Regions from separate parts of the Homo sapiens genome. Here regions 2, 3, 4, 5, 6 and 7 are each linked to region 1. The links come from fine-mapping of genetic effects on gene expression. A gene starts in region 1. Each other region holds a variant in brackets. All regions are shown on one strand. Distances are between the middles of the regions. Region 1 holds the start of AJAP1 (adherens junctions associated protein 1). Region 2 overlaps LINC02781 (long intergenic non-protein coding RNA 2781). Region 3 overlaps AJAP1 (adherens junctions associated protein 1). Region 4 overlaps AJAP1 (adherens junctions associated protein 1). Region 5 has its middle 100 kb from the start of LINC02782. Region 6 has its middle 35 kb from the start of LINC01646. Region 7 overlaps AJAP1 (adherens junctions associated protein 1).

What was found. PIP is the estimated chance that this variant, and not a neighbour inherited with it, causes the effect.
Region 2: its variant is fine-mapped to the expression of AJAP1 in ovary (GTEx, PIP above 0.99).
Region 3: its variant is fine-mapped to the expression of AJAP1 in whole blood (TOPMed, PIP above 0.99).
Region 4: its variant is fine-mapped to the expression of AJAP1 in whole blood (TOPMed, PIP above 0.99).
Region 5: its variant is fine-mapped to the expression of AJAP1 in pancreas (GTEx, PIP above 0.99).
Region 6: its variant is fine-mapped to the expression of AJAP1 in lung (TOPMed, PIP above 0.99).
Region 7: its variant is fine-mapped to the expression of AJAP1 in unexposed skin (GTEx, PIP above 0.99).

Annotation. Positions count from the first base shown.
Region 1 is chr1:4,652,481-4,656,911 of GRCh38, forward strand. It overlaps AJAP1 (adherens junctions associated protein 1), which reads left to right and starts at 2,129. Exons shown (of 6, transcript NM_018836.4): 1 at 2,129-2,974. The coding sequence starts at 2,946. RefSeq lists an enhancer at 120-169.
Region 2 is chr1:4,975,821-4,980,251 of GRCh38, forward strand. LINC02781 (long intergenic non-protein coding RNA 2781) reads left to right here. Exons shown (of 5, transcript XR_946902.2): 4 at 1,142-1,271. Among named protein-coding and RNA genes, the nearest start is that of LINC02781, 4.6 kb to the left of the region's middle. The variant A/C (reference allele first, on the strand shown) is at 2,213.
Region 3 is chr1:4,711,404-4,715,834 of GRCh38, forward strand. AJAP1 (adherens junctions associated protein 1) reads left to right here. Exons shown (of 6, transcript NM_018836.4): 2 at 497-1,296. Among named protein-coding and RNA genes, the nearest start is that of AJAP1, 59 kb to the left of the region's middle. RefSeq lists an enhancer at 1-204. The variant G/A (reference allele first, on the strand shown) is at 2,490.
Region 4 is chr1:4,734,255-4,738,685 of GRCh38, forward strand. The region is part of intron 2 of AJAP1 (adherens junctions associated protein 1); the gene reads left to right. Among named protein-coding and RNA genes, the nearest start is that of AJAP1, 82 kb to the left of the region's middle. RefSeq lists an enhancer at 1-125. The variant G/C (reference allele first, on the strand shown) is at 1,982.
Region 5 is chr1:5,196,791-5,201,221 of GRCh38, forward strand. No RefSeq gene overlaps it. Among named protein-coding and RNA genes, the nearest start is that of LINC02782, 100 kb to the left of the region's middle. The variant C/T (reference allele first, on the strand shown) is at 1,997.
Region 6 is chr1:4,604,043-4,608,473 of GRCh38, forward strand. No RefSeq gene overlaps it. Among named protein-coding and RNA genes, the nearest start is that of LINC01646, 35 kb to the left of the region's middle. The variant C/G (reference allele first, on the strand shown) is at 2,392.
Region 7 is chr1:4,753,659-4,758,089 of GRCh38, forward strand. The region is part of intron 2 of AJAP1 (adherens junctions associated protein 1); the gene reads left to right. Among named protein-coding and RNA genes, the nearest start is that of AJAP1, 100 kb to the left of the region's middle. RefSeq lists an enhancer at 743-1,604. The variant G/T (reference allele first, on the strand shown) is at 2,484.

The sequences.
Region 1 (4,431 bases):
GAAATTTGTTTTTATTACTCTTTTGATAATGCATTTGCATAGAATTGGTTTCCTAATAATCCTGGGCTTTTTCATCTATGCACTTAGAAGCCATTCTGAGAGAGGTCAGCAGGTGTCCACAAGGCTGCCCAAGGGGTTCCTGGAGCCGACACGGTCCGGTCCGGAGCCCCTCCCTGCCCTGCTGGCTCCTAGTGTGCGAAGCCGGCCCCTTCCAGGCCCACTCCGGTTGCAGGAAGGGCCTCCCTGGTGCAGCACCGCCTCCTCACACCGCTAGGTGGCAGCACTGCCGGCGCCTCCTTCCCCGCCGGCCGCCATAGGCCCCGCTGGTTCCAGGACCTCCCTGCCTCCTTCGCCTCTTAATGGGATCCGCTCCCTCACACCCCTCAGGGAGAGGCTCTAGGGGACGATGACCCAGGGGCGGCCCGGCAGGGAAACTGCTGAGTCACCCTGCTGCCTCTCGGGTCCTCTGACCGGCTCACAGATCACCATAGCCACAGTGTGTGTAAGGCCTTCTCATGGAGCCCTGCAAACACCTCCCCGGGGAGGGGCTGTGGGACCCATCTTACAGATGAGGAGACCGAGGGTCGGAGAGGCCACACAACTCGGCCAGGACCCCGAGTTAGCAAGCGCTGGCCCCTGGTCCAGCCACGGCAAGGCTGGCCCTCCTGCCACCACACTTCCCTGCCTCTGGCCCTCTGCCGGGAGTCTTGGTGGGGAAGTCACTGTCTTCATCCTCCTGCCCGGGCAGAGTCCAATCCTGTGCCTGGCTCCTCAAGACCGTTGGCAAAGATCCTGGAGGCCTGGGGGTGAAAGGGCTGCTTGGGGGACTTAAGCCCCAAGCTATGGTTCGCCTGGGAGACTGAGCCCCAAGCCATGGTCCTCCTGGCTCTGCCCTTCCACCCCCTCACTGGCTGCCCCTCCCAGGGAGGCCTCACCTGTGAAGTGCTTCCCGCCCCTCTCACCCCCCACGGCTCTCACATGGCCTGGGGCGATTCCAGAGCTGGCCTGGGTCAAGCACCTGCACAGAGCACAGAGCGAAGGCTCGGCATGGTATATCCCCCGCCCCTTGCACCTTTCCCCAGTGAAGGGTGGCACCAGTGTCCTTTCCAAGGCCCGGATTCTGCACTGCCCTCAGCCTGTGGAGGATTAAAAGCAGGGTTTTGCCGTGGTTTCTCAAGGCGTCAGCGGGTCTGCAGAGGATTCCGCCCCATGTCACTTCTCTCAGTGAAAGGTCCCCGCCCAGCGTCTGTCCTCCTTTAAGTGCCCCCCATTTGTTTTTTGTTGTTGTTTTTGTTTGTTTTTTGCAAATACAGACTAACCAGGTAGGCACAGAGGAGTCCTGGCATGGGAAGGGAGCAGTGAAACGCCGGTGGAGAGTCCGGGAGGCCCAGATTCCCTGGAACTTTCCAGTGACTCCTCCGGAGCAAGGGCCTGGCCAGGCAGCAGCTGCGCTGGGCGATGAGGGACCGTTGGGTAATTGGGGGCATAGGACCGGGCTTCGCTGGGTTCGGGGCAGAAGCGCCGAAGCTCCGACCCGGAACGCGGTGACTTCATCAACGCAGAAGCCCGCGCAGCCGAGCAGAGGAGTCCCTCGTAGGCGACCCTCGGACAGACGCTCCTGCGCGGCCCGCGTGGCTCAGCTCCGCCCCAGGAAACTTTTCGCGCAGCCCCCGCTCCATGCGCCCCCACCCAGTCCTTCTTCGGGGCCGCCCCCTCCCCAAAGTAGCTCTCCGGGTCCACTGGGCGCCCCCGTAACCGGGTCGGAACCTCGAACGGCTTCGCGTGCCATCCGGTTACCCTGGCAACACCATCCGGCGGCGCCCGGCGGTCCAATCCTAGCCTGCGGCCTCTCTCGAGCCTTTCGCAAGGTGGGGACCGGGACGCGACCGGGGATGGGGAAGGGGGCTGCAGGAGGCCCCGCCTGCGCTGTCGCCCCTGCTGGGCACAGCGCCCCCCACCACCCGCGGCGACCCCGGCCCCCGCAAGGTGGGGCGGCGAGCAGGAGCCGGGGCCAGGCCAGGGGCTCGAGCTCCCGTTCGAGGGGCGGGGAAGGCGGGTGACGTGAGCCGGGCCGGGCGGGCGGAGTTGGGACCGGCTCCGGGAGGCGGGGGCGAGCGCGCGGAGAGGCAGACGCGAGGAGGGAGGCGGCTGAGCAGCGCGGGCGGCTCTGCGGCGGGCGCGGTGGGCGCGGGCGGCGGGGCCCCGGGATCCCCGCGCGCCTCCTCCGCGCGGCGCCGCCGCCGCGCGTCCCCACGCCCCGCGCTCCACGGCGCCCTCGCCCCGCGCGCCTCTCGTGCCCGCCTCCTGCCAGTCTCCGGGCCGCGGCCGTCTGCAGAGCGAGCGCTCAGACGGAGCCCCCGGGCAACTTGAGTGGCGCCGATCGGCGGCGGAGCCTCTGGCAGAGCCCCCCGACCCGGCAGCGCGGAGGGGACTCGCGTCCGTCCGCGTCGCGTCACCCCAAACCCTAAGCAGCGCCGCCCCATCGGCGCGGAGCTCCGGCTGGAGGCAAGAGCCGCGCGCCGGGAGACACGCACCGTGAGCGGCAGCGCCGCCGGCCTCCCTCCTCGCCGCCCCGGAGGGCGAAGCCGCGGCTCCCCAGCCCTTTGCTGCGCCGCGACAGCGCCGGAACACGCCCCGCCTCGCTGCCGCCTTCGCTGTGCCGCCGGCGGAGGGGGCCGCGAGCCCCGCGCCCCGGCCGGAGGATGTGCGCCCCCGCGGGCCGCCCAGCCTGAGCCATGCGCCCCAACGGCGGCGGCGCGCCGGCCGGCATGGAGCCCCGCGCGGCCGCGCTCTGACTCGCTGTGCGCCCCGCGGCCGGCGGGCGGCGGGAGGCGGCGGACCGAGAGCCGGAGACCGGCGCCGCGGGACGGAAGCGAGCGGGCGCGGGCGCCGCGCAGATGGCCTGGGCGAGCCAGGTCTGAGGCCCCGCTCCCCGAAACGTGACCATGTGGATTCAACAGCTTTTAGGACTCAGGTGAGCGACCCGGCCGGCGCCGGGTGCGTGTGGGCGCGTGGGTGCCAGGCTGGGCGGAAGCGGCGCTTTCCTCTATGTTGCAAATCAAGGGACCCCTCTTCGCTTCCCGCAAGCGGGCAACGGGGTGCACCGGTAGCCGGAAAGGGGCGCCCGCCCGGAGCCTGGAGCAGCACCGCGGCCCTGGCGGGGAGCGGCCGGGTCTCCAGGGTTCCGCGCGTCCGGGGTCGGGGCAGCGGCGCCCGCCCCAGCAACCCGGGAAGTGGGGCCGGCCAGGCGCGCCCGCAGCTCTAGGAGCCAGCAGCGCAGTGTCCTGGCCGGCTGCCCCGGCGCGCCTCCTCCCCGGGGCCCGGGGCGAGGCGCCGGCCGCTGGGCGCGGCGGGCGCGGGGGCCGGGGCTGCCGGGGAAAGCTAAAGCTCCGGGCTCCCAGCGAGAGCTTCGCAGGCGGAGTTGGAGGAAACCACAGCCAAACAGCCACTCCGCTCCCCCTTCTCCTTTCTCGGGGCCCCGGGGCTGAGCAGGGGCCTCCCAGGCTCCCAGCTGCCGACCCAGCTGTTTGCGGGTGACCTCCGGGCCCGACGGGCGCTCACAGCTGGCGGGCAGCTGGGGCGGGAGAGCTGGGGTTCTTGGGGAGCTCCGGCGGCCACCCCGCTGTAAACACACACGCACATACGCCCGCCGGCGCGCCCGGGGCTTGTCTGTGTCTGGGACTCCAGGGCCAGATGGAAGAGGGGGTTCGAGCCTAGAGCCCGTGGTGGGGGTGTCCAGAAAGACCCTTCTCGGCAAACTTTGCCAGCCCGCCGGGGTTCTCGGGCTTCTCTGGCTTCTGCCTGGGGTGGCCCAGGGCCCACCAGAGCACAGCTGTCGTTTTTGCTGGGCAGGCTGCCTCTGAGCCCTCGCCCTCCTGCCGGGGCATTCACCGAGCTCGTGCATTTGGGTCCCGGGTTGGAACCGCGAGCGGGGAGGACAGAGGTGGAGGCGGAGAGCAGCGTGCGGTTCTCGAGTTTGTCCACTGGGATGCACTGCGCTCCCGCGTTGGGGACGAAAAGGCCAGTAGTTGTTAGCCCGCTGCTTGAGCCGCCCCCACTCAGGGATGAAGCTGCGGGGGGAGTGAGGCGAAGGGAGGGAGGATCTAGTGCGTGTCCTGATTTTGAGAAATCGGAAGGGGACTGGGACGCCAAGTGTTTTCTAGCGACCCTTGATTTATGAGCCGATTCTGCTCCCAGAGGTGAATACTGTGTAACACATCTAGTGAACATTGTCAGATGTTATTATTAGCATCCCTTCTCTCAGTGGCCGATCTTGCTGTGGGCTTCAAAGGTTAATCATGGAGCCGATTGTGTTGGGTGTGGGATATTGGTCGGGCGTGAATCGATAAGTGTGCTTGGGCTAGATAAGGTTTAGGCTTGGACCGTTGTGGGATGTTGGCAAAATGGAGCGAGGACAGCTTTGCAGGAATG
Region 2 (4,431 bases), 320 kb after region 1:
CTTGACAGGCACCACTGTCCCTGTGTTCCACATGAGCAGGCTTGTTCATTGAGGGACGCTCATTCAATTCACAGAGGGGGCTCTGCTCCACAGCTTTCCACTGTCCCTTAGTCTGCAGGGCAGGGCATGGGACAGGTGCTCATGAGGAGCACCTCCTGAAGGAGGCATAGAACGAAATTCACTGGATTAGGAATTGCACCATCCAGAGCCTCAGGGGTGCTAGCTTTGTCCCTGAGCAGTCTCTGATGTTTATCATGTCCAGAAGTAGACAGAACTGGGAATCATCTAATCAGGTGTCGGGAGGATTCATCACTTGGCACAGGTGTGAGTCCCCGAGGTGTTCCCGCTTTTCCGTCATCTCGGAGGGACCTGCCTATGCTGACTGGTGGGTCATCAAGATTAATAAAGACAAAGGCTTTGGCGGATGCTCAGCTCAGGAAAAGCACCTGGAGCTGCTCTTTCCTGACTGATTAATTAGGGAAAGACGTGGTGGCTGTAATTGGCGGTTGAGTATTTTCTGAATTTTAACATTCGCGGTATGCAAATCTATCAGTTTCTAACAATATCTAACAAGATTATTTGAAAGTGAGAGTCTCCCAAGAGATGCAGGCATGGTTCGGGGGAGATGTGGGGCTCTTCCGGGTTTGTATGCACTCATATAAATCAACGGAACGTTTGTTACCAATTGTTACTAACGTTCTTCAGCAAATTGAGAGATCGACCAGTAAATACGCATTAAACATAATCCTATCTACCTGTTGCATTTAATTCCAGCAGCGAAGACCCATTACACTACTGAAGTTTGATGAATGTTTTCTCTCGCTGCTCATCTGACTTGGAAACGAGTGTGTTTGCTCAGGGCGGGGGTAGGGGGTGGGGGAGTCATGTGCGAGCCTTAGCTCCTTCAGTTTCCACGTGGAAAACTCTAAATTGAAATCCGTACCTCCAGGGACCGTGAGACCAAAGAGAAAACTGTTGGGCCCCAAAGGGACCATTTCCTACCATAATGAGAATTTTAAATGGCGGGTTTGAAATTCCTTGAAAAGCCTTTCAGAAATGTGTGTGCAAATGATGGTTGCTGAATTACTGACAGAGATGCAATTAAATTCAAGGGAGAACGTCTCCTTATTCTAATTTCCAGCCTGAAGACCCTTCTCCCTATCCCAGGAGGAGCCCAGGAACGCAAGCGAGAGCCTCTGCAAGTCACCCCAGCTGCCGCGTTTCCACCCAGGAGGAAGACGCACGTGGGGCGGCACGAGAGATAGACGGAGGTGAGGATGGAATCGGAGATGAAAGGCCCAAGGGGTGGGGCCTGGAGTGGGGCCCTCCCGACATTTCCTTCCCAATGTATTGACCTCTTCTTCTCTTAGACACAGACTAACTAAACCTGGGGGCAGTGTCCGACTGGAGCCAGGGCCCCCTCCCACACCACAGGAATCGGCAATTCCAGCGGCCTTGTTCTGAGCTGTGGGGTGTGGGGCTCCAGTGAATCCCAAGTGTATTATCTCCTTGCACCTTCAGCACTCCCTGGGCAGTGCACACTCTTCCTACCCCATGTTACTGAGTCCTCATGAATCTGCAAGGCTTTAGAACCCAGTGGGCAGAGCAGGCAGACCAGGGAGGCAGCTGCTTCCACAAGTTCCTGGCTGTGAGACCTTTCTGATGAGCCTCCTCTCCTTTGCCTGTAAAATGGGGATACCCTGCTGGGATTATCCATGCCCTGGGGTTGCTGTGAGCGTTCAGTGAGGTAACCCATGCCTTGCAAGGGTGCTCTGTCTGGCCAAACCCATGGCGAGAGTCACTCCAAAATTGACAGCAGGGGAGTTCCTGCAAGAGACAGCCCCAAACTGTTCTGAGATGGGGCTGGCTGGAATTCCAGAGGGAGAAGAAACAATTGCTGGGGTCCTTGCTGTAAAGCATTTACCGGGGGAATTTACATACAGCGGCTGAAGCCCCGTGACAGAAAGCAAGGAAAGGGATGTTTTGCCCACGTATGTCCATGATGAGGTCACGGTCTGGCGTTTGAGGGTTTAGGGAACTTGGCTCAAGGTCGGACTGGTTTCTACATGTTTAGCAACGTGGTCTCTCACTGACTGCTGCAAGCAACAACCTGAACGACTTTATCAGTGCCTGGGAATGTTCCAGAGTTCAGCTTGGGTTCAAGCCTGTAGGAGAAAGCCTGCAGCTGGCCGGGTCACAGAGCAGTCAAGGC[A/C]ATCTGGGCTACTCGGTCAGGACACAGAAAGAAAGCAGTGAGGACTTGGGAGGACCTACAGTGGGCTCAACAAAAGTGGGTCTTGTTATTCCGGAGGTTAAATCATCTGACCAGCACAAGAAAGCAGTGAAGTTGGGATTCCTACCAGTGGTTTTGGCCCCAGAATCATCTCCACATGATACGTTTAGAAGGACAGGGGCCTCGTCAATGCCTGTGGGTGAAAAGATGCCCTTTCTCTTTTCTACTGAAAGTGCCCCTGTGAGACCAAGGCTACTACCATTCAACAGAGGCAGGAATGGAGGTGCACAAACTGACTCCCTGGGTCAGTATTTCTGCTGCTTTTCTGGGTGCCAGTGGGGTTAGGTTTCATGCAAAAAGCCCACAAACAGAGGTTACTCTTCAAAGCCACTGCCCCTTTTGAAGACAAAAAGCGGGGAATGTCACAGCACCACAGCTGAAGACCAAGAGGTCCTGGGAGAAGCAGGGAGTGGTTAATAACAGGAGGAGAGCCAGGACTTTGCATATAAGCTTGCAATGCACCCCATCAAGACTTCCCCGGGAGCTTTTTCCTGTGCTGGGGAATAATACAAATGTGCCCATCAGTGCAAAGGGTGCAGTGAGGGCAGGAAGTTACAGTCACCATCAGGGTCAGCCAAGGAACAGTACATAGCAAGCTGGGTGAGACACTCTGTGCCCCAGGCAGGGCCACTGGGGCGAGTTGGGCCTCAGATGTCCTGCTTCTGAATGAGGGCCTTGAACTCCGTGGTGCCTACATCCTCTCCAGTTCTAAAATAAGATGACATTTAACGAGGTCCCACTGTGTTGATGGGGCACCGCAGCGACCTCGTGTTAAACAGCACCATATTGTTGATGGCTTGACCAGATGCCGGGAGCACGTGATCTTGCTACTGAGTCTCCGTGGCCTCCACTTGGCGGCACCCAAACAAGAGACAGCAGTGTGCAAAGATACTGGGTGTGGGTTTCTCTAGTAGCAGAGAAACAGAGCCTTCTGTGCTTGCAGGGTGCTTGCCCTGCCCTAAACAGCATGAATCTGAACCCCACCCATCCGAACAGCCTGGGGAGGCAGGATGGAGAGACGTCAGAGGGCGGTCACCAGTATCTCACTGCACAGGGGCTGGAGGTTTGTGTCTCGTTAACCTAATGAGGTGACGGTAACTTCCTGCCCTCACTGCACCCTTTGCACTGATGGGCACGTTCATGTTATTCCCCAGCACAGGAAAAAGCTCCCGGGGAAATCCTGATGGGGTGTAGCGCAAGCTTATAAGCAAAGTCCTGGCTCTCCTCTTGTTACTAACCACTCTGTGCTTCTCTCAGGCTGTCCTGGTCTTCGGCTGTAGCACTGTGACATCCCCCACTTTTTGTCTTCAAAAGGGGCAGTGGCTTTGAGGAGTAACCTCTGTTTGTGGGCTCTTTGCATTCCTTCTTGGCTGCTGGGCTCTGGAGATCCTTCAGTGATACTTCAATGCCATTGATAGCAAATGCTTCAAACTGGATCTTGCTGTCCCATCTCCACTGGGCAGAATGGGCTGACCCCACATGAAACATGTGGGGAGATTTTAGTACTAGTCCATCATAAAAACATTTCCTCTCAGAATTTATTTGGATAAAGTAAAGCAGATGAAAATCACCAACTGCCTCTTCCTTCTATTTACTAAATTAGTAAGCTGATGAATAAACCAACGTATATTGAGTGCTTACCCTAGGCCTGAGACTGTGCTAAGTTAGTCTGTGATCTATTATTAATTTCCTCAACAAGTTTGTTCATTAGTTCAATAGGTGTTTCCTGGCCTTTAGCCATGTGCTGGTTATTATTCTAGGCTTTGGGGACAGAGCAGGGAATGAAACAGACAAAACGATGCAAAGCTCCCTCACGCCCAGAGGGAGGTAACTTCTAAATGGGGAGAGAGGTGACAGCAAAGTACATGGGTACAATAATAAAATGCACTAGACAGTGGTCGTGAATGTAGAAAGAAACAAAGTGGTGGGACTCAGGAAAGGCCTCAAGGGGAACATGACCCTGGGCAGGGTGCGGAAGGCAAGGGGTGCCAAGCAGGCAGGGCCATCGGGGGAAGAACACCGCAGATCGAGGCTCCTTGGCAGAAAGGCTGGGGCAGGAATGGGAAAAAAGAGACCATAGGCATAGGTGGAGGCAGATAGGAGGGAGGTCAGAAGAGTGGGGTGGGGTCCTATGGACCATT
Region 3 (4,431 bases), 59 kb after region 1:
GGGGGTGGCCTGGGCTATGTAGAGGAAAGCGCCTGGCCCTGGGGTCCCAGGTGGAGGCCGGTGTCCGCTGCTGCCATCCTCTCACTTACGTCCTCTCGTCGTGTGATGGGCAAAAGGAAGGAGGGACTCACAGGTCTTTTCAGGTTATCTTGTCGAGGCTGCCCTGAAAGGCTGGGGGTTTCTGAGGCTCGGTTTTCGCTCGCGTGAAATGGACTATTCGGCGACCGGCCGGCTCTGTGCCTGGCAGGCGCCTCAGCCCCGCGGTGCCGGGAAGCAGCTCCCCGCACCCTCGCAGCGCGCGCTGTTCTTGCACGTGAGTGAGCCTTTGAAGGAAAGGAAGGAAGGGTTTCGGATTCCCTTTTGAAGTTAGGAGGAGCTCTTTCCAGAAGAAGAGAGCGTCCTTGTCACAGCGCGGGGTGGAGAGAGAGGGCCCCGGGGCCCAGTCCCCCTCCTGGGCTTCCACTGACCGCTCTTCTCTCCTTTCCCCCCCGCACAGCTCCATGTCCATCCGCTGGCCGGGCCGCCCCCTCGGAAGCCATGCCTGGATACTGATAGCCATGTTTCAGCTCGCCGTGGACCTGCCCGCCTGTGAGGCCCTGGGCCCGGGGCCGGAGTTCTGGCTCCTGCCGCGGTCGCCGCCCCGGCCGCCCCGGCTGTGGAGTTTTAGGAGTGGACAGCCAGCGCGGGTCCCGGCCCCGGTGTGGAGCCCCCGGCCGCCCCGAGTGGAGCGGATCCACGGGCAGATGCAGATGCCTCGAGCCAGACGGGCCCACAGGCCCCGGGACCAGGCGGCCGCCCTCGTGCCCAAGGCAGGACTGGCCAAGCCCCCAGCTGCTGCCAAATCCAGCCCTTCCCTCGCCTCTTCGTCCTCGTCCTCGTCCTCCGCGGTGGCCGGTGGGGCCCCGGAGCAGCAGGCCCTCCTGAGGAGGGGCAAGAGGCACCTGCAGGGGGACGGTCTCAGCAGCTTCGACTCCAGAGGCAGCCGGCCCACCACAGAGACTGAGTTCATCGCCTGGGGGCCCACGGGGGACGAGGAGGCCCTGGAGTCCAACACATTTCCGGGCGTTTACGGCCCCACCACGGTCTCCATCCTACAAACACGGAAGACAACTGTGGCCGCCACCACCACCACCACCACCACGGCCACCCCCATGACGCTGCAGACTAAGGGGTTCACCGAGTCCTTGGATCCCCGGAGAAGGATCCCAGGTGGGGTTAGCACAACGGAGCCTTCCACCAGTCCCAGCAACAACGGGGAAGTCACCCAGCCCCCAAGGATTCTGGGGGAGGCCTCAGGTACAGCCATCTCTCTTCTGGTTTGGGTTTGCTTGGGGTTGAGGGCTGGGAGCGTGACTCGGGAGAGATGCTTAGATGTCCCTGGGTGATGCTATGTGTGGAGGCTCCAGGAGATGCAGGCGTGATGTGTCCATGAGCTTGCACATGCCTGTAGACTGGCAAATACAGGCTGTGCCTTAGAGGAAGGGGGCGTGAGAAGGGAGAGTTTCCCTTTTTAGTATGTACCTAGAAGTGGGCGCTGCACCCCTTGTGCCTCTGTTAGGGACCAGCTGAATCCACCAGGTGCTGCAGCCCTGTTACAGACCGGTGGAATCCACCACACACAGCCACGCCTTCCAGAATCAGAGAATTTTGTCTCTGGGGCCGGCCCTTGAGCAAGATGCTTGCCCGTCTCGTGATACAATTAAGGATCCCCCCGCCCCAGAGTCTTCAAAAGCCTTCAAGGGTATGGGACCCATGGACGGGGGCATGGACGGGGGCAGGGTGCCTGCCAACTTGACCTCGGTAGAGGATTAGGAATGGCCTTAAATAGCAAGAAAGGCCGAGGCTGGGTAAAAGGAAGAACTTCCTGCGGTGTTAACAGAACCTTCGCAGACAGTGATTCAGGTGGCACCTTTCGGCTCCCTGGGGATGTGTCAGGAGGGTGTTTGGAGGACGGAGATCAGAACAAAGGGCTTTGGTTCTTCTGCTGCTGTTATCCTAGCTGCCTGTGGACACACACAGTTCACTGGCTTTGGAATATCTCCTTCTGTGCAGTTTTGTTGTTTTTTATTTTCCTCCTATACGCTGTCCTCCATTTGCTTTGAAAGGAGTAGCCCTTGGAAATCTCCCAAGCCAGGGCTTGTCCCTGAACTGGTAGCCTGCACTGATGTCACCAGGCTTCACAGCAGGCCTGCGGGGAGAGCGCAGAGCCCTGGGCACCCCGTCACCCTCACCTCCCTCCAGTTTTCTCTGCCTCTGTTAACAGGCACAGCCCGATGTGCCAGGTTGGCTCAGAAGTTCACAACCTAGATCTGTGCATACACATTCTAGACAAACAGCAACATTTGCTAACTTTAAAATCGGATGCAGATTTTAGGGCGTCAGTACAAAGTGGGCGGGGGCGCCCTGTGGCCTCCTCACAGCTTGCTTTCCACAACCTCCAGCTTGTGGGCTCGGTAGGCCCCACCCAGGCCTCTGCAGAATCAAGGGGA[G/A]GGAAGAGAACTGCTCTTCAGAGCTCATGTGCAGGCGGCCGGCATGGCATCCAGGCCCTCTGCGTCCTCACTAGACTGCGTCCTGGCCCTGGTTCCTCCTCATCTTGGGCAGGCAGGCACCGGGCAGTCCTTGGACAGGTTTTCATGGGGTGGGTGGCTTTTGTCCTTCAGCCGGTGACCTACTTTCTTCCTTCACCTGGACAAGAGAACCTGCGGTTTTTTTTCTGAGCTCCTCTTCCCTAGAGAGCAATGTCTCTATGGAAGCACAGCCTGGGCTCCCTGCGCATGCTGAGGGCCATGCCCAGAGATGGAGGCTGTGGGCTTGGGAGAGGCTCTGGAGGAAGAGGCTCCGGAGGAAGAGACTCTGGAGGTCCTGCATCGGCTTCCTCCCATGCAGCCTCTTTTGGGAATCCACGGACATGCGGGGTCTGCAGCTCATCCTGCACTGTCAGGCGCCTGCTAGCAGTTTACAGAGTGTTCATTTTTACCTCAGTAAACTCAGCAGCCATCATCATAGTAGGATTTCTTGCTACTCTCCCTTACTGTCACCTCCTCTGTATACGTCACTTACTATATAGACATGGATGAGGAAACAAGTTCCCATTTATTCCAAATTACATTTGTTATTACTAAAGTTAAACACCCGGGACAGCGTTGTAGGCTTAGCAAATTAATTCACAGTGCATTGGATGTTGCTAATCCATCTCGACAGATGCTTATCTTGGAAGCGATTTATGGTTCTTCATAATATAATCTGGTGCTAGATTAATTTGTTTAGCAAAACAAATCTAAAAAGAGGAAAATATGTGTGTTTGTTTCTAATGCAGAGAAATGTTAATTCTGGAACGCAATGCTGGGCCACAGGGAAGGGAACAGGTGGTTTACAGCAGCGCTCATCAGGGCTAGGCCACCATCCTGAGCTTCCCAGCCAAGGCAAAGGGAAGAGAGGAAATGCGGGGATGATTCCCCTAACTGGGTTCCTCATAGCCCAGTGGGTACCATGTAAATGAATTAGACCAGAGCAGGAACAATTTAGGTTACACACTGGGAAGTACTTGCTGGTGATGCAGGAGGTGAGATCTTTGCTTAGGCTACTGAGAACAGGCTGCATAATCTCCTTATCTGAAGTCCCAAGTAGAGGGGGATGGGGCAGGGGGAGGAAAACAACTGTTTAAGCTTCCCCAGATGGAAGGAGTGCTGGGACAGAGGGCTGAACTCCCTGGAACCCCCTTGCTTGGCAGTCATCAGATGCAGACCTGCGCCCCCAACATTTGGTGGAACGTGAACACTACTCACACTTCTCAGACATCTAAGGCAGCAGAAGTGGTCTTGGGGACTCCAGAGCTGCAATCTGGGAGGCCATGAATTGCTGCAGTTAGTTAGCAGGTGCCTTGAGGCTGAAGATCTGGGAGAGAATCTGGGCTCTGTTGCATGTCACTGTGTGACCCTGGAAAAGGTCTCTCCTCTCCTGATTTTCTTTTCTTCACCAGCAAAATTGAGGCTTAGAAATAGGCCGTGTGCAGTGGCTCACGCCTATAATCCCGACATTGGGAGGCTGAGGCGGATGGATCACCTGAGGTCAGGAGTTCGAGGCCAGCCTGACCAACATGGAGAAACCCTGTCTCTACTAAAAATACAAAAAATTAACCTGGTATGGTGGCACATGCCTGTAATCCTAGCTACTACGGAGGTTGAGGCAGGAGAATCACTTGAACCTGGGAGGTGGAGGTTGCGGTGAGCCAAGATCCTGCCATTGCACTCCAGCCTGGGCAATAAGAGTGAAACTTATTTCAAAAAAAAAAAGAAATATTTTTCCTAAACGGTTGCTGTGAGAGTTTAGTGGATGAACACTGAGCATAAAATAAGGCACCTGGCGCTGAACAATTCTCCATACTTATTCGTTGTTTTTATACCCAGCAAGAATGGCCTGAGGAAGAGAGGG
Region 4 (4,431 bases), 82 kb after region 1:
TGCCCTACTGAGCCTCCTGCCTCACTATTAACAGCGCTGCGTCCATACTGGGAGCCAGGTTCTGACAGCTGACTTGAATTAAATCTCATAAGGCCCACAGGACACACGTCCTGGGAAGAAGGCATTCCTCTGATCTTAAATCAGCAGAGGCAGAGGCCCCGAGAGGTTAAGTGACTTGCCTGAGGTCACACAGCCTGAAGGGGGTGGAGTCAGGATTCAAACCTAGGTTCCAGGGATGGTGTGTTGACAGCCTGCACTCATCTGACTGTATCTCCTTCAGTCTTCTCCACCATCCCTTGGGCGTATGGTATTTTACAAAGTAGGAAGTGGAGACAGGGATTAAGGAGTCTGTCCAGGTCTGCCCATGAATGAATGTCAGGCCTCGTCACTGCAGGAGCTCGGACTGCACTGGATGGGGCTGGAGTGGCACCTGTGGGCGATGCTGAATATGATGCATGATCTGTCTTTCGGGTGTTCTTGGAAGGAAGGAGAAGGGCAGCACCCAAGAGGGGTCAGTGATGGTGGCAGGGCCAAGGCTCTCACCTTCCCCCGGACAAGGTTTCTAAGGCCCGGGAAGCATCTTCTGCTTCCGAGGCCCGAAACAGTGGCGTTTCCTCTTCCCCGAGCACTCAGCCTCCATCTGGCTTTCTGTCCACCGGCACAGATGGCAATGTTGTTTCTCGACTCCTCCGTCCATCGCCTGCAAGCTGAGCCGCGTGATGGAGCTCAGCCTGCAGCAGCCGTCTTCACCTCAACTTCCCTGGGAGCCGTCCTGCTTTGCTTACACGTATGAGCTCCGCGTGCTTGGCGACCCTTGAGGGTGATAGAGGGCCGGGTAGAGGGGCTTCTCTTCTACACCTGGGTGAGCTCCGCACCAGCGGCAGGAGCACACCCTTACAAAAGCCTGCCACAGCACGCAAGGCATGGTGGGACCAGGCCTCCTGGCTGCTAGAAGAAGACAAGAAAAGCATACTGGGCTGAAGTCACTTCAAAAGCTGGTCACAGCAGGTCTTTTCTTCCGTGACACTCACATAGGGGAGATGGGGAGAGAAGTCATCCCTGGAATTCCAGCCTGGAGCGTGTGGGAGGGAGGGTGCGATGTGCATCAGTGGGGTGAGAACGCCTATTGGGAGAGGGGACCAATTTGGGCCCCAGGTTTGGGACTCTCCTGGTTGAATGTCTCGCCCATCCAATTTTGCAGGAAAGGAGCCTGGTATGCAGGCTCAGCACCCACTGCACCGGGTGGGCAGCTTTATTCTGCCTGTGGCACTGGCCTAAGAGCTCAGAAAGGTTTAAAAAGATAAGACAGCCCACTGAATAGCCAGGGACATTCAGGAGGCTGCACACGGAGGTCTCTCCTCCCAGGCTGCCTGCTGTACAGTGGGCACCTCTGCCTGCTGTGTGAGGTGTGAGGTGAGCTCCTCCCTGCTCCTCTGCTCCCTGAAGCCCTACCCTGGCTTGACTCATGCAGTGCAGCCATCTGAGCCTCAGTAAGCCCCTCGACAAGCTGCCGCCTCCTCCGGGGTCCCATCTTCCTGAAAATGGGGCACAGCCCCTGTTACCCCTGCCTCTGGCCTCGGAGCTGGCTCCCCTTCCCTGTGTCACTGCAGCTCAGCCCTGGGGCCCGCCTCCTGAGGGTCTCCACGGTGATCTTCAGCCTTTGCCATTGCTGGTCAGATTGAGGGGAGCAGAGCTTAGAGGAAGAGGGTTGGCGCTGAGGTTCCTTAAGGCCCCAGATCAGCTCCCTACTTGCTACAGTGGCAAGCTGCCTTACCTGCGCCTTACTTTCCTCATTTGGAAAACAGGGGTAAGAAAAATGCCAACCTCCCAGGGTTGTCAGGAGAAAAAGTTAATGTTTGTAAAGGGCTTGGGATGTGCCCTGGCACATGGTAAAGGCTGCAGAGGTGTCCCTGAGACCGTTGACAGAAATAGTTTTCACATAGTTGCCCCATCAGTTCTCCTAAACCACAGCTCTGATGTT[G/C]CCCCTCGCCTGCTCAAGAACTGTCATTGGCTCCCCACTGCCTACCCCAAGAAAGTTCAAGCTCTCTCACCTCTTTTCCAGGCTGTGACCGCCTTCTCCCTTGGCCTCCTGTTGCCCGCTGCGCTGTGCGCAGCCCTCCCTTTCCCACGGTCTTGGCTCTGCCAGTCACATCTTACCCCCTCCCAGCTCACTCTGCTCCAAAAACACCAGCCACAAGTACTTCCCCTCCCACACATCTTCCTCTAATCCTCTGTGGCCAGCGATAATCTCTTCCTTCCTCAAATGTTCATGCTGCCTTCCTGGTTGTATTTATATGTATAAATAACTGCAAAATAGGATTAAAAGTGAGGCCCTGACTCCCCAGTGAACCTGCAAGCTCCTTCAGGCCCGAGCCTTGATGTGCTTTTTGATTCTTTTTATCCTCTGTATAGCACACGGCAGAGCAATTTGCACACGTAGGGAGTTCAATATGTATTTATTGAATAAGCAAATGAAAATTAAAGAATAAAGAAAAGGCCTTGTAGCTCAAACCCCTAGTTATCCCAGTGTATCTGTGGAGAACGTGCGGGGGCCGCTGGTAAACTTGGAGTGCACAGCTTGGGTGGGCTGGTTGGAAAGAGGGCTTCTACATGGACCTGCAGCCCTAGGACTCAGACATGGGTCTCCAGGGCTGACTACTGGGGGTGGATTGAGGCCTGAGAATTCTTCCCTGCGGGGGCTTATTTTCATGCCCAGGTCAAGCAAGGGCCCCGCTTAATCCAGCCATCATCTAGAGAAAAATGGTTGAATGAACTAGAGCAACTCTCTGAATGTACTGGAGTTGGCACACTTGCATTGGGCAAAGTGGGAATTATTACGCCTGTTTGCAGCATCGCGAGCAAAGTGGGATGCTGTGTGAGAGCGTCCTTTCCCTGCCTGCAGTTTACTATGGGGCTGTGGATGGGCACCCCTGGGATGGGAAGGTTCTCACCAAACCCAGGCTGGGAGGAGGCTGGGGCAGAGCAGAGAGTCGGGAAAAAGCATGAGCCTGAGCCTGAGCCTGAGCCTGCCCCCTGGCTCTGCCGAGTCCCTGGACAAGCCCCCGTCACCACCCACCCCTCGGCCCCTCACCTCTCTCAGGGAAATGCCATAGCACTGATTACCCGGCAAGGATGGGGACCTGTGGGGTGAGATTTTTTTTTCTGGGGCTCGTGTTGGATTTCCTGGTGCAGCAACAGGACGCAGTGCAAGTGCAAGCAGAGACGGGAGCCCCCCCGAGACGGAAGCCCCCCGAGATCTGCGAGCTCATCCTTTCCTTAGGCCTCTGCATAGGCAGGGCCAGGGTGCCCAGGTCCCAGACTCCTGAGGCCCTTGTTGTGGGTTTTAAAGAAATTCTAGGCCAAGTGCAGTGGTTCACAGTTATAATCCCAGCACTTTAGGAGGCCTAGGTGGGAGAATCACTTTAGCCCAGGAATCAAGACTAGCCTGGGCAACAGAGTGAGACCCCGTTTTCTACAAAAATAATTATTTAAAATATTAGCTGGATGTAGTGGTGCATGCACCTGTGGTCCCAGCTACTCGAGAGGCTGAGGCAGGTGGATCGCTTGAGCCCAGAAGATTGAGGCTGCCGTGAACCATGATTGCACTACTGCACTCCAGCCTGGGCGACAGAGCGAGACCCTCTTTCAAAAAAACCAAAACCAAAACCAAAACCAAAACCAGCTGCCTTTTGCACCCATGGTTCCATGTGGATTTTGAAGAAGCCCAGAACTCAGTTTCACAAGAGCTGGTTAAACTCCAAAGGTGTGCAAAGCACCTGCCTGGGGGAAACAGCTTCCCAGGCTTGATTTTACCTGGTACTGAGTACAAATTTTACTCATTCCAAATGTTACACTTCTTGTCTTGCTAATGTTTCAGAAGAGTAATGGGACCCAAAGCCCAGGCGTCCTTCAAGCATGCAGCCCCCAGCCACATGGCAGGCCACGGCCATGCATGATGAGGCATGATCAACACAACAGGGGCCCTGCTCTCATGGGGCTAGCAGGCCCACAAGGGTGATTGTCTGGAAATTCACTCAAATAAATGCGTAATTGTCAACCATGTTGAGCAGACTGAGTCAATACACAAGATAGCATAAGAGTCTCTGCAAGAAGAATGTGGATTGACTGGGGAGTTAGCATGCGTGAGGGGCCTCTCTCTGAACAAGGGGAGGGTGATTAGGGGGTAGCTGGTCTGGAGCTAAGAGAGAGCACTCTAGGCGGGAGGGAAGCCAGCCCTAGGGCAGGAGTGGAGGTTGTTGGCGAGAGCCACTGGCAGGCAGATTTGGTGGGAAGGATTAGCACAGAGCAGAAGGGAAGAGTAAGGAGAGGGGGTGGGAGCCAGGGCAGGCCCCCCAGGCCATGGCAGCACCGCGGGGGTGTGCAGAGACTAGGAGAAGCCGCTGGAGGGTTTGAGCTGGGAAGCAGGAAGAT
Region 5 (4,431 bases), 540 kb after region 1:
ATGGAGCAGGGTTGAAGTATCGGCGGAGCACGACCAATTCTGGGGTGTCATTTTGTTGCGTAGCTCACAAACCTGGCTCTCTGGCTTTCCCAGATATTTGGCGGGTCATCAGTGTCCTTGGATAAATTTATTTGCTATTTAAATTAACCAAAGGCTTTTTCCTGTTGCTTGCAATGGAGAGACTAGGCTAGGTAGATTGTTCCTATGGCCTCATAATTGTTGCTAAGTCCCCAAAACTGAAGAAAGCTTCCAGGCCCTCACCAGAAGCAGGTGCTGGTTCCATACCTCTTGCACAACCTGCAGAACTGTGAGCACATCTGAGGAGAACACGATGTTCTTTTCAGACTCAAACACATCTAAAGAGAACTCCTGGGAAGCCGTAAGCACACATCATCTGAGCGTCCTGAGGCAGCTGGAACATCTCCCATGAGCTGCCCTGCCAAACCCTCCTCCCAAGCCTGCACAGAACCTGAGACAGGAAGAGAGTGAGAAGCATCAGGATTGGCAGATTGGGGATTGTGGAAGAAAAACATGGGGTTATGGTAAGAGGTCATTTCCTTCTTTCTGATGGAGGGGAGCTTCACTCTTCTCTATCCCAAATCACCTAGAGAGTGTGTATTTGGTGGGGGAGGGGGGATGGTACTTATATGGTTTGGATATTTGTACCCTCCAATTCTTATGTTGAATCGTGATCCCCAATGTTGGATGTAGGGCCTGGGGGAGGTGTTTGGGTCATGGGGGCGAATCCCTCATGAATGGCTTGGTGCTATTGTCATGGTAATGAGTGAGTTCTCACCCTAATGGTTCACAAGAGAGCTGGTTGCTTACATAGTATGCACCTTCCTTCCATCTCTCTCTTGCTCCTCCTTTCACCACCTGATGCGCCAACTCCCCTTCCCCTTCCATCATAATTGGAAGCTTCCTGAGGCTCTCACCAGATGCAGATGCTGGTGCCATATTTCATGTACAACCTGCAGAACTGTGAGCCAAATAAACATTTTTTCTTTATAAGTTTCCCAGCCTTAGGTATTCCTTTAGAGCAATGCAAAATGGACTAATTCAGGGATCTAGAAGAATCACTTACAGATAGGATGGCTGCACATCTTGGCTCACTTGGGGCAGATTCACCCATTGTCTCAGAGTCATTTCTAGTAGCATCCCCTCTCACTCTCGTAAGTGTCCAGGTTTGGCCAATCAATTCTGTGGTCACCGATTTACTGAGCATTCATTTCCAGCAAGGCTTGCAGACCCACTCTAATGCTGGGACACAATAATAAGAGGGTCCTTGTGAGAGAATGACATGAATCTCTTGAATTTGGGAGGGGAAATCTGAACACAGATCTATGCCTATTTTATACCTGATGCCAAAGAACTTGCTGAAATACCAGCTCCAGCAGGACAATGTGAAAATGGCATGTACTGGGTCTGGGAAGGAAGATGGAGAAACTCCCACCTTACCCTGATCCTCCACAACTCTCAGAGTTCACAGAGAAATCTTCTGGGATTCCCTTGGTTTCATATGAAGAATTACGGAGGTTAGAGGAGGATGCAGGAGTTACGGAGATGCCGTGAAGATGCTGCAGGTGGAGAAGGGTGGGATGTGGAGACCTGCATCCCTCTGAGCCATCCTCAGTGATGGAGGCTCCTGCAGTAAGAAGGAACATCACACCCCGATAAAACCACACTCAGCCTCTGCACAGAGACATTCATCAGCAGAGGCCATAACTCAACTGAGCCACTTCAGGACAAAGGACAGCTCACCATTACCAAGAGCTGCTCCTTGCATAATTTGACCGTTGTTTTCCCTCTTCAATCCCCGACACCAGAGGTGTTACCAAGCTTGTCCAATCCACCTTATTTTGTTGTTATTGTTACTGTTGTTCTGTCTTGCTTTTTTTTTTTTTTTTTGAGGCTTTTAGTAGCCTGAAGCTGTGGTTTTTTAGTTTCCGTCTCTAGTGATAAGCAGAAAAGAGGGATGAAAAGGGGGCATTACTAG[C/T]CCAGCCAGAAACAGAAACTAAGAACCCATGCCTGTATTCTTTCCCTTGGACATCCCTGTTAGAAACTACAAAAGGGTGGAGGGAACAGGAGTGACCTACTCTTTCCTCGCCCCCTCTTCACCCCATGGGCACACACACAACCATATCCAAGTTCTTTAGCTGAGGGTCTGGGCCACACAGGGTCAAGAAGAGTGTTGAAACATTTACAAAATTAGAACTTTAAACAGGACTGGACTAATTTGAATGACCAGCAGCAACCGAGACATTCTTAAGTAACAGGAAAGGAGGGCTTAACATAGCATGGTTAGTGAAAGAGATTGAGGAACAAATTTCCACTGAGTTGAGAGCGTTCCATAAACCAGGTTCAAGCTCAGGACAAACATCTTTTATTTTCACTTGTCCAGCATTCTCTTCCTCCTAATTTTCCACTGGGAAAATACACACTCCCCATTCCCAGTTTCTGCGGCGGAGGAAGGTCTGCCCATTGTGCACCTTCCACCCACCCATCTTCCTCATCCCCAATCCGGAAGTAGACATGTGAGTCAGGTCTTGCCAATCAAGAGTGATTATCAACTAGCACAGCTTCTGCAGGGAATCTGTTGGAAGGAGAGGTTGTTTTTCCACTGTGGTTACTCAGCTGGTGGAACCGCCAGCCTGGAATTCATGATCACTCTCTGGCCTCTGACAAGGGAAGAGCTCGTGTGAACACAGAGAAAAGGAGGGCCAAGAGACACAGAGCACCTGGATACCACTGTGCCTGAAGCTAGATACCCCTGAGCTTTTTAGTTTTATGAACCAATCCATTCCCTTCAATGATTAAGACACTTTGAAGTGGATTTGTCACTTTCACTGAAAAATACTTACCTGATGCAGATGTTCAAGTAAGTGGGAAAGGAAGGTGTATCAGTCAGATTCTAGCAGGAAACAAAAGACAGGAGATAGATGAAGTTAAAGGAGCCAACAAGAGATAGTAAGGTACCCAGGCAAGTGTGGAAAGGCTTTACCATCCCTAGGCTTGTGCTACTGGAGTCCCATGAGAGCAGGAATTCTGAAAAACGGGTCACCTGCTAGATGTCACAGCCACTTCCTTAACTGTGCTGAGTAGAGACCTCCCGGTCTTTGACCTCCTGCAAGTACTTCCCGTTGGCCAATCTCAGAGGGAGGGAAGTCAGGGTGATGCAAAAAGTAGAGAGGGTGTCTCCATGGCATTGTGCAGATGAAAGCAAAGAGGAGAGGTTGTGGGAAGACAGGGGGCAAATGCAGACTCACAAGCTGAGGATGCTTCTAATCTCCCTGCAGTATCCCTGTTCAGACAAACAGCAGGCTTGGGGGGGCCTCACATCCTCCAGTCATTTTTAGCCTACAATGAGTGCCCCATGAAAATCAAATGGCACATTGACATCACAGAGAGCAGGAATGAATGCTGGTATTGTTGATCCTTGGTCATTCCCGTCTGAGTTCAAGGCTGTTTTCCCCATGGTATTGTGTCCATTGTTCCACGGCTGGTGTGTCCTTCCTCCTTTCTCTGAATTCCACCCTTTGTTCAAGACCTAAAGTTTCATCTTATTTGTGAATCTGCTCCTGACCTCCCCAACCTGTGGCGCCCACACCACCTTAGCCTCACTGCCATTGATAGCACTTTTCTGATCATGGGGACACAGAGTCAGGGCTAATGCCTCTGATTCACTCATTGGAGTCAAGATATTTCTAGCCTCCTTAGGGCTCGCATCCCATGAGGAAGGGCTGGGTCTTACGCTTGCTGCACTCAGGGTTTCCACCCCATTTTCCCTTCATCACCTGCTGCCCTCCTCACTCATCCCTGCCCATGTGCCATATACCAGGCTGTAAATGATAGGCACCTAATGCATATTTATGAGCTGGAGTGTTTGGGGAGGAGAAATTGTTTTTGTTTGGCTAAGTCTAGAATCCTAGAACCACAATGTTTATAAAATATCTTTTCAAAGAGAATAGGGCAGCTTTGAACAAGGAAAAATGAATGAACCAACACAAGAAGAACTGTTCCAAGACCCATATTCCCAGTTAGTTTAGGGCATGGGGGATGGGATACACAAGAGACCTAAAGTTTCAGGGAAACTCATCCATTCAACATCCCATGCCCCCTTAAAATCTTGTCAAGGTGATTTTATCCATGCTGCTGTCTATGCTTGCCACTCAGAGTTAATCAATCTTACAGTCTTGGAATGAAAAGTTACATTGCATTTCTTAGTTGCTGTGAGAAGCACAGATTACTTTTGGGATACTTGATCTTGGTTCCTGCCATCATCACCTCATGGCCCATGGCAGAGGAAGGGAGCCCTTGATGGGCCAGTTGCTGCCTTTCTACACAGAGATTCCAGTGCTGCCCATGGGGGCCCACCCTGCACCACATGAGCCACCTGCAGAGAAGGAGCCCTGGTGGCCTGGGCTTGAGAGA
Region 6 (4,431 bases), 48 kb before region 1:
AATAGAAGTTTCCCATGAAAGGTGAACTGTGAACACCACGTTTAGCTCCCCTTCATTTTCCATTAGGGCAGGATTGCCAACTGTTCTGATACTGAAACCCCAACTTGGCTGGTGGCTTGCAAAACATTTTCAACCAGGAAAAGGCAAAAAATAGAGTCAGCAGCATCTCTGGCGTCAGAGCCAAACTTGCCTCCGGTGGAAGGTTTCAGCCATGATCTCCAATCACACTTCGTTGCCTGATTCTCTATGCTTACAGTGCAAGCAAGGAAGAGGATTGGAAGCACCATGTGAGGTGGGCACAGCTCACAACCTGGAGGGTCTCAAGTGACGTGTTCGGCCCATGACCCATTAGCAATGTTATAGGAATCTATTTTCTGGTTAGAGGTTGGGTGGGTGGACTTCTAAAGGTGCAATGAGGATTCTTGTCTGGGAACAATTCTCAGTCTTGCTTGGTATCAGATGCAGCCTTGGGAGCTGGGACATTCCAGGGAACTTTATAGTTGACTGCAGAAAGGGACCATTCGGAGCCCCGCCGGGGACAACTCCCCACATTCCTAGTACCCATTCAAGGTCAAGTAAGTACTACCCCTGGAGGGGTTTGCTTTCATGTTTTTCAAAGTTGAATCATCTTCTGTCGACAGAAAAATGGCAGAATTCATTGTCCAACTCTGGCTGTATTTTGGGGGTGTCTCCCTAACAGGTGTTTGCAAAGATTTTCAGGTTTAGAGGAGTCACATAGGAGAACAACAGGCAGCTCTGGTTTTGCAGTTAACAAATGCACAGGAACATAATTTGGAATCTCTGTATGTATACATATCTAATTATAGTAACATAATACAAAAATATAATATTTAATATCTATGTTGATGCAAAGGTCGGAGAAACCTTTGAGCCTGCTGGTTTACCTTCCAAACTTAATGTAATAACCCTCAGGAGCATTGCAAGGGGACTTTGAAACTCTGGGCTCCTGCTTCTGGGCTGCAGCCTCCAGACATCCTCTGTAGTCTGTAACATAGCTATTGGGGGCGTAAGGGGTGACTCCAGCCATTCCAACATGTTTAGACTATGTTAATGATGAGGTGAGGCTCTGTGATCGGGAAAGTGACCCCTCTGGCTATCACATTTCTTCGGGAGCCTTTGTCCTGGTCCCAGAGGCTGACCAGACCACTGAAAAGGAGAAAACAGGAATGTTAATTATGTAGCTCCCATGCTACCCAGAGAATTTACTGAGCAAGAACCCAACAACTGCTTGGGAAAATTGAGGGCGCGTGCCCTTGGAGAACAAGGTTCTTTTGCACATTGCCCATACCGGTGCTTACAACAGACCTCACGGCTGGAAGAATCTCAAGCATGACCTGATAATAACATGCTCTTAGAAACGGGGGCTGAAATGACTGATGCTCTGCCAAGCAGTGGGTTAAGTGGATTCCAGGAATTGTTCCTGATTCTCAGCAGCAGCAACCTGCCTGGCATGTGGTCAATTCCATCCTCATCACTAAAACCTAACCTCTTCAAGGTCACCAAGGACTTCCACGTGGCTGAATCTAAGGGACGTGTCTGTCCTCATCATGCTCAACCTTTCTGCAGTATTTAGCACAGCAGGTCATCCTTTTCTCATGTCACCCCTCCCTGGGTCACTTCCTACCCCCCTGGCAGCTCCTCCCCAAACTACTTTGCTGTCTCCTGTTCCTCAGCTCAGTCTTTAGAGATCAGAGCACCCCATCTCCCTCCTGACTCCTTCTCATCTCTATCTCCACCCATTCTAACTTCATCATCCAACCCCATGGTTTTAAATCACCCCATGGACTGATGATTCACAAATGTCTCTCTCCTCCCTGTGGCTCTGGTCTCACACATCCAGCTGCTTGCTTGACTTCTCCACTTGAAAAAGCACCATACATCTCAAGCTCAGCATGTCCCAGGGACAGCCTGGTCTCCTGCCTGCCCTGGCATTGTCCCTCACTGTTCTTCCACCCTTCAATGAATCTGACCACCCCAAAACTCGGAAATCATTCCAGATACTGTGTTGTCTTCTCCTCCCACACTCAAATCCTCACCCAGCTCTGTGGCTCTCTGGCTGGGTCACTGCAAGGCTCGAGATCCCTGTACCTGCTGTATCTGCTGCACTTCCCCCATCGTGGGCCCATCAGAGTCCTGGATTCCTGCAGTAGCTCCCACCCATCTTCCCACGGCTTTTCATGCCTCAGAGCCTGCTCTCGACAAGGAGCCAGAGTGGCTTCTGTTTGGCTTCTTTGTTTTTAGTGTAAACCAAATCCATCGCTTTCCTCCTTAAAATCTTTCCATAATTTCCTGAGTTCTTAGAGCAAAACCTAAGCCCCTTAGTGTGGCCCACAAGACCCCATGTGGATGGGTCTCTGCTGGGGCATTTTC[C/G]TTGTCATGCCTCTGCCTGGTAGGTTCTTCCCCACCCTTAGCACATCATGTCTCACCAACCGGCCCCTAGGGCACCCCTTCTGTCCACCTCTCTAAAGGTGTTTTACACCTGTGCCTGCCCGTTGGTTTCCTTGGGATGCAACAACAAAGCACCTTAGCCCAAAGGGCTTCAACAACAGAACTTATTTTCCCACTGCCCTGGAGGCTGGAACCTGAGACCAAGGTTGGCAGGGTTGGTTCCTCCCAACATTTCTTTCCTTGGCTTGTAGACACCATCACCTTTCTCTGTCCTCACATGGTCATCCCTCTGTGTGTCTGTATCCTCATGTCCTCTTTTTATAACGATGCCAGTCAGGACCCACCCTAATGACCTCATTTTAACTTAATGGCTTCTTTACAGATGCAGTCTGCAAATATACCACTTTCTGAGCTCCTGGGGTCTAGGATGCCAACAGGTACAAGAGGTACAGCCCAGACCACATTGTCCTGACCCTCCACATCTCATCTCTCTGCTTCTTTCTCTTAAGTAGTCACTACGTTTTAGAATGACCTCGCTCTCTTTTTATTTTTTCACCTTTTTTGTTGGCTGTCTCCCGGGATGGATATTTTGTTTGTTTGCTTGTTTGTTTGTTTGTTTGTTTTGAGACAGAATTTCTCTCTTGTTGCCCAGGCTAGAGTGCAATGGCACAATCTCAGCTCACTGCAACCTCTGCCTCGGAGGTTCAAGTGATTCTCCTGCCTCAGCCTCCCAAGTAGCTGGGATTATAAGCAGGCACCACCATGCCCAGCTAAAAATTTTGTATTTTTAATAGAGACGGAGTTTCACCATGTTGGTCAGGCTGGCTGGTCTTGAACTCCTGACCTCAGGTGATCCACTCACCTCAGCCACCCAAAGTGCTGGGATTACAGGCATGAGCCACTATGCCTGGCTAGGATAGACATTTTATGAGGCTTTTCTGCTAGTTTGCCAAGTCCTCACCATCCATACCATGGAGGCTGCAATGACATCTTCTACAAATACTTGGGAAAGTTCCAGAGGAGAGGGGATTTCAGTGGAGAGGATGAAAAGTAGGAGGAACTGTTCTGGTTATTATTAGTCCCATGGAAAAGATGGGGAGGGCTCAAGGGCCAGAATCGCTGAGATGCCCAGACGTGGGCCATTCTGAACCCAAAGCTCATCACTTTCTCCTCTTCTGTCCCTGCCTGTAGGAATGGGCATTGTTGCTTCTCAAGCTCTGGGCAAAGGAGAAAAATCCCTGGTCACCTGTGCAGAACAGACGTGAGTGAGACTCTTACAAGGCCACCTGCCCAGCCCTGGTGGCTCCTAGTCCAGGACATGGAAAAGGGGCTGCTGCCCAGAAAGCCAGGAGGGCGAGAAGACCTTGAGAATGTCCAGAACACTGAGAACTGGATTAGGACCTAGAGGCACTGGGCCCCTGGAGCCTCAGAAGGATCAGATCCAGAAATGGAATTGTGCTGTCTGCATCCTCTCCCGGCCAGATCAGTGCAGAAGTTTACTCTGTGAATGACTCTCCTCTATCTGCTGTCAAAAACTACCACCTACTTGATGGCTTTAAACGGCAGAAATTTATTCTCCCACAGTTCTGGAGGTAAGAAGTCCAGAATCAAGGCATCGGCAGGGCCATACTCCCTCTGAAGGTTCTGGGAAAGGGTCCTTCCCCGCTTCATCCAAAGCGGACTCCTGACATTCCTCACAGATGGCCACATCACTCCAATCTCTGCCTCTATCATCACATCGCCTTGTCCTCTGTATGTGTTTGTCCCCAAACTCCCTCTGCCTCTCTCTTAAAAAGATACACATGATTGCATTTGGGGCTGCCCAGATAATCTAGGATAAGCTCTTCTTTTCAAGATCCTTAGCCTAATCACATTTTTTGCCATAAAAGGGAACATTCTCTCTTCTGTCACATAAGGTGGCATTCCTGTGTTCTGGGGATTAGGATGCAACCTGTCTCTCTGGGGCCACCTGTCAGCCCACCACACTGTTTTATGAGTTTCTTAAACAAACAGGTGCCATCT
Region 7 (4,431 bases), 100 kb after region 1:
GCCTCCTGGGTTCAAGGGATTCTCCTGCCTCAGCCTCCCATGTAGCTGGGATTACAGGCATGCACCACCACGCCCAGCTAATTTTGTATTTTTAGTAGAGACAGGGTTTCTCCATGTTGGAGAGGCTGGTCTCGAACTCCTGACCTCAGGTGATCCGCCCACCTCAGCCTTCCAAAGTGCTGGGATTACAGGCGTGAGCCACTACGCCTGGCCTAACTGCTGTTTTAAAGGTGGTGTCTGATAACTCCAATACTTACTTATTCTATGAGACTATGTCTTTTGTCTTTTGTTTTTTCTCTTTGGTTTTTGTTCGCTTGGTTCTGTCCCCTGGTGTGCCTGGTAATCTTGTGTTGAATGCTAGACATTGTGCATGAAAAGCTATAGAGATGATTCATGGCACTAAATCAGACATTGACCAGCTATAGTCCATGGACCAATCCTGCCTGGTTCCTGCGTTTGTACATCCTGGGAACGAAGAATGGTTTTGTCATGTTTAGAAGGTTGAAAAAAATTAAAAGGATAACGGTTTGCAACACATGAAAGTTATTTGAAATTCTATTTCTAGTGTCCACAATTAAAGACTTCCTGGCACATAGCACACTCATTTGTTTACATTTGTCTGTGGCTACACAGGCAGGGGTGTGTTGTTACTACCAAAGCTGTATGGTCTGTAAAACCTAAGCTATTGACTCTCTGGCCCTTTGCAGGAAAAGTTTGCCAATTCTTGCTCTCAAGGCAGTTTCTCCTGTAGCAGAGACTCCCTTTCCCTTCTGGCTACCCACTAGGTTGGGACTATGTGGAGAGAAAGTGAGTTTCCAGTCTCTCAGGCAGCCCATCCTCCTTGACAGTCCCAATCTCCATTCCAAGCTTCCCAGACCATGGATGGCTTCCTGGCCTCAAGCAGCTGCCACTTTGAGGATGAGAGGACAACATCTCACGTCTTCTAAACTCACAGGGAATTCCCAGCTTCTGATTTTCCAGACTGAAACTGAACATTTGTCTATTTGTTTGTTTCTGTTTGTTTTCGGTGACGGGGCCTCAGTCTTGTGCTTTGAAAGGCCTTCTTGGAAACATGGATTAAGACGTTGCTGGGACCCCAGCGCAAAGCAAGGAGTGGCCGTTTTCCTATGGCTTCCTTATTCCAAGCGAGCGAGCCTCCCTTGTGCTGCCTGCCCTTGGGTCCTCCTTCCTGCTCTCCCCTCATCTCAACCTGGGGCATTTGTGGGGACAGTGCTCACAGCCACCACTCCCTGGGCCTTTCATGTCCTGACTTGCAACAGCCCCAGTGGGCAAGATGCAGGGAGATCAGCCCTGCCTGGGCAGGAACCCCCAGCTGGCCCACCAGGTGTCTCTGCCTTGGAGCCAGGTGGTATGAGCACAGGGATTCTCACCATGTGCCCTCCCTGCAGCCCATGGAGCCGTGGTTGGGTGGCACTGCCCACTCCTGTCCTGGTGGGAGAAGGGGCACCAGGTGACTGTCCAAGAGCAACAGGGAGGGTAACTGGGGGCCTTTCGAGTGCATCTATTTATCTGTTTATTGTTTTTAATAAAATGGCTGTTGGTGTCATAAAGACAGCAGCTGTTACTGAATTTAACAATATTCTGCAGCAGGAAGCACTCAGAACCCCTGTGGGAAGTGGGTGCGGGGGACTCTCACATGTCCCCCTCCTCTCTCACACCACCCCCACACTTAAGATTGCATTGCAATTTCCCCACTCTCTGGCTGCATAGAGGTTTTAATGAAACAAGGGGATAACCGTCTCCCTCCTGCTGGCTCTGTTGACACTGCCAGTGGGTTTTGCAGGCAGAGCACCCTGCCTGGCCACGGGGCTCTGTTTGCAAGCTTCCGGCCTTGCTCCAGGGAGATTAAGCTGCCCCCACCCCCACCCCCTGCCTGCCCATGGACTCAGTCTAGTACCGGGGGTTTGACTCAGACCTCACTGGAAGGCATGTCTTGGATGTTAAAGGAAAAATTATTCAATGAGACTTGTTAGAGAGCAGTAAGGAATGCTTTACTTGTAAGGAATGCTTTACTTGGGGCCATCACAGCAAGTACAGGGACCACACAGTGGGATTTCGCAATGGGGGAGAGAGATTGGGCTCAACTTAGAACACAGCCTGGGCAAATGGGAATTTGCAGCCAAGGGGTAGGGCGGGGTGGTGGGGGGATTAAAAACGACTAGGAGGAAACACTGGAGTAAGGGGGGTTCTGGCTGTTAAACCCACCTAACAGGGTTCTTGCTGAAGGCAGGCCAGGTTGATCAGACGTCACCTGGGGAAGGGTGAAGGATGACAACGGATCAGAAATGGAGGGTGATCAGATATGGAGGGTGGGGGTTTTGGCTAAACTCACTTAGCAGGGTTCTTTGCTAAGCATAGACTTATGCTTAGCATATGCATAAGGAAGTGCCCAGACAAGCCTAGGAGAAGGTGCAGGAGCCTGATGAGAGTTTCGCCAGGCAGAGGATCTTTGTCACTGAGTT[G/T]GGTGGAGTTTGGCAGCTGCATCAGTGAGCAAGCACCTCTCAACACAGAAATAGAAGTGTGGTCCCCTTTTCACATCACGGGCCCCAAAACAGAAGCAGCCCACAGTGGTGAGGGGCTTGGCCCTGCCGAAAGCAGCTCAGGGAGGGCTGCAGGAGTGAAATGACTATGTCCGCACCGTGGCATCCCTGGCTGGGAGCCCAGGACCAGTGCTCAGGGTGCCTGGGCCAGGTGTGCGGTAGTCTCATGGCATGGCCTGACCTTTTCTGACCCAAACTCCTCAGCAGGGGCTTGTCTGGACCAAGATTCAGCAGCAAGTAATGCCCTCCTGGGTCAATGTCTCCCAAGCTAAGCTCTTTCTCTCCAACTCACAAATGTTTACGGAGGGTCTAGGGCAGAACAGAGATGGCTGGATTTGGAGGGCCTGCCGTGAGTGGAACCCAAGACAGAGAGGCTCCCTCCTGTCTCTGAGACTACATCCTGCTGAGTTCATGGAGGTTTTGTTTTCCTGGGATTCAGACGCTTAGGTTCTGTGCAAGAAGAGTGCAGATGCCAAATTTGTGAGATGCTGGGTTAAGCAAACCTTCTGAAACAAGTTTGCTTTCTGGAGGCCTCTCAAACCTGAGCTTTGTGACTCTCCAGGAGGGAACTAAGCTTCCTACAAAGAATTCCCACCTTGATTTGAGCAGAGAATCCTTGTGGGTTTTCCCAGAATGCTGAGAAGGGTCTTTGGGGAGGGTAGGGAGCCTGCAGTGCCCCCTCCAAGTGTGGAACCTCAGGCTGCCCCTAGCCCTCCCTAGCCTCATCTCTGTCATGCAGCCACACCTGCCTGCCCCCAGCCCTTTCCCCCATGCCTGTGGCAGAGCCGGGGGTTCCCTGGAATGAGATGAGAGCCTGACACAGAGGCTCACACATGAGTCGTTGTTTGGGGAGGTGATAAGGGAGCCCGAGCGAGGCTGGGAGGATTTCATGTGGCTCCTGGAGACATCTGATTCTCTGTGTCAGTGGAGGCCGCCTCACTTCTGGTCTTTCTCTCAGAAGATCCTTTCCTTTGCCTTCAGCACAGACCCCTCCCCTTTCCGCCTCCCCTGTCAGTGAGCTATGCCTTGAAATGCCACAAACAGCACCAGACCCAGGGGCATGCAGTGCTACCAGTGTATTGCTGGGGCTCACTCACATGCCCCCGGGTGGCCAGCTGTTCGCTGATCTGGGCTGGCTTCAGCTGGGGGCTAGGGCTGTCAGCTGTGGCCCATGGGTCTCTCAGTCTCCCGTGGGCTGGGCTGGGCATGTTCTCACTATGATGGCAAACGGACAAAATGGCCAGCCTCATGCACCACCTTGCTCCCAACACTGGCCCAGCCCACAGACAACTGCAAAGCATCCTGGCATGAGTGTGGCTGGAGGGGGTGAGGATTTGGGATCACCATGGAAACACATCACAGGTACCTGGGGAGTGGGTCTACTACAGACACTCATGGTACCTCCTGTTGTAGAAGCTCTTGTCACAGGTGCACTTGCATGAGTATTTGTGATTGGTTGGTTGGTGTCCTCATCACCCTGGTTTGTAGCCTGTTCTGGATGGGGACACTGCTTGCTTTTGTTCCCCTACTGCAGCCTTTGGGTCTAGCCCAGTGCCTGCACACAGTAGGTCCTGAATAAGCAGTTATTGAATGAGTGAAGAGTGCTTTTCTATAATATCTTGAGGCAAGGTGTGTGATATGCTTTTGCTGTGTCCCCACCCAAATCTCCTCTTGAATTGTAGTTCCTGTAATCCCTACCTGTTGTGGGAGGGACCCGTGGGAGGCAGAATTTAATCATGGAAGTGATCACCCTCATGCTGTTTCTGTGATAATGAGTGAGTTCTCATTCTCATGAGATCTGATGGTTTTATAAGGGGTTTTCTCCCTTTTGCTCTGCACTTGTCTTTCCTGCCGCCATGTGAAGAAGGAC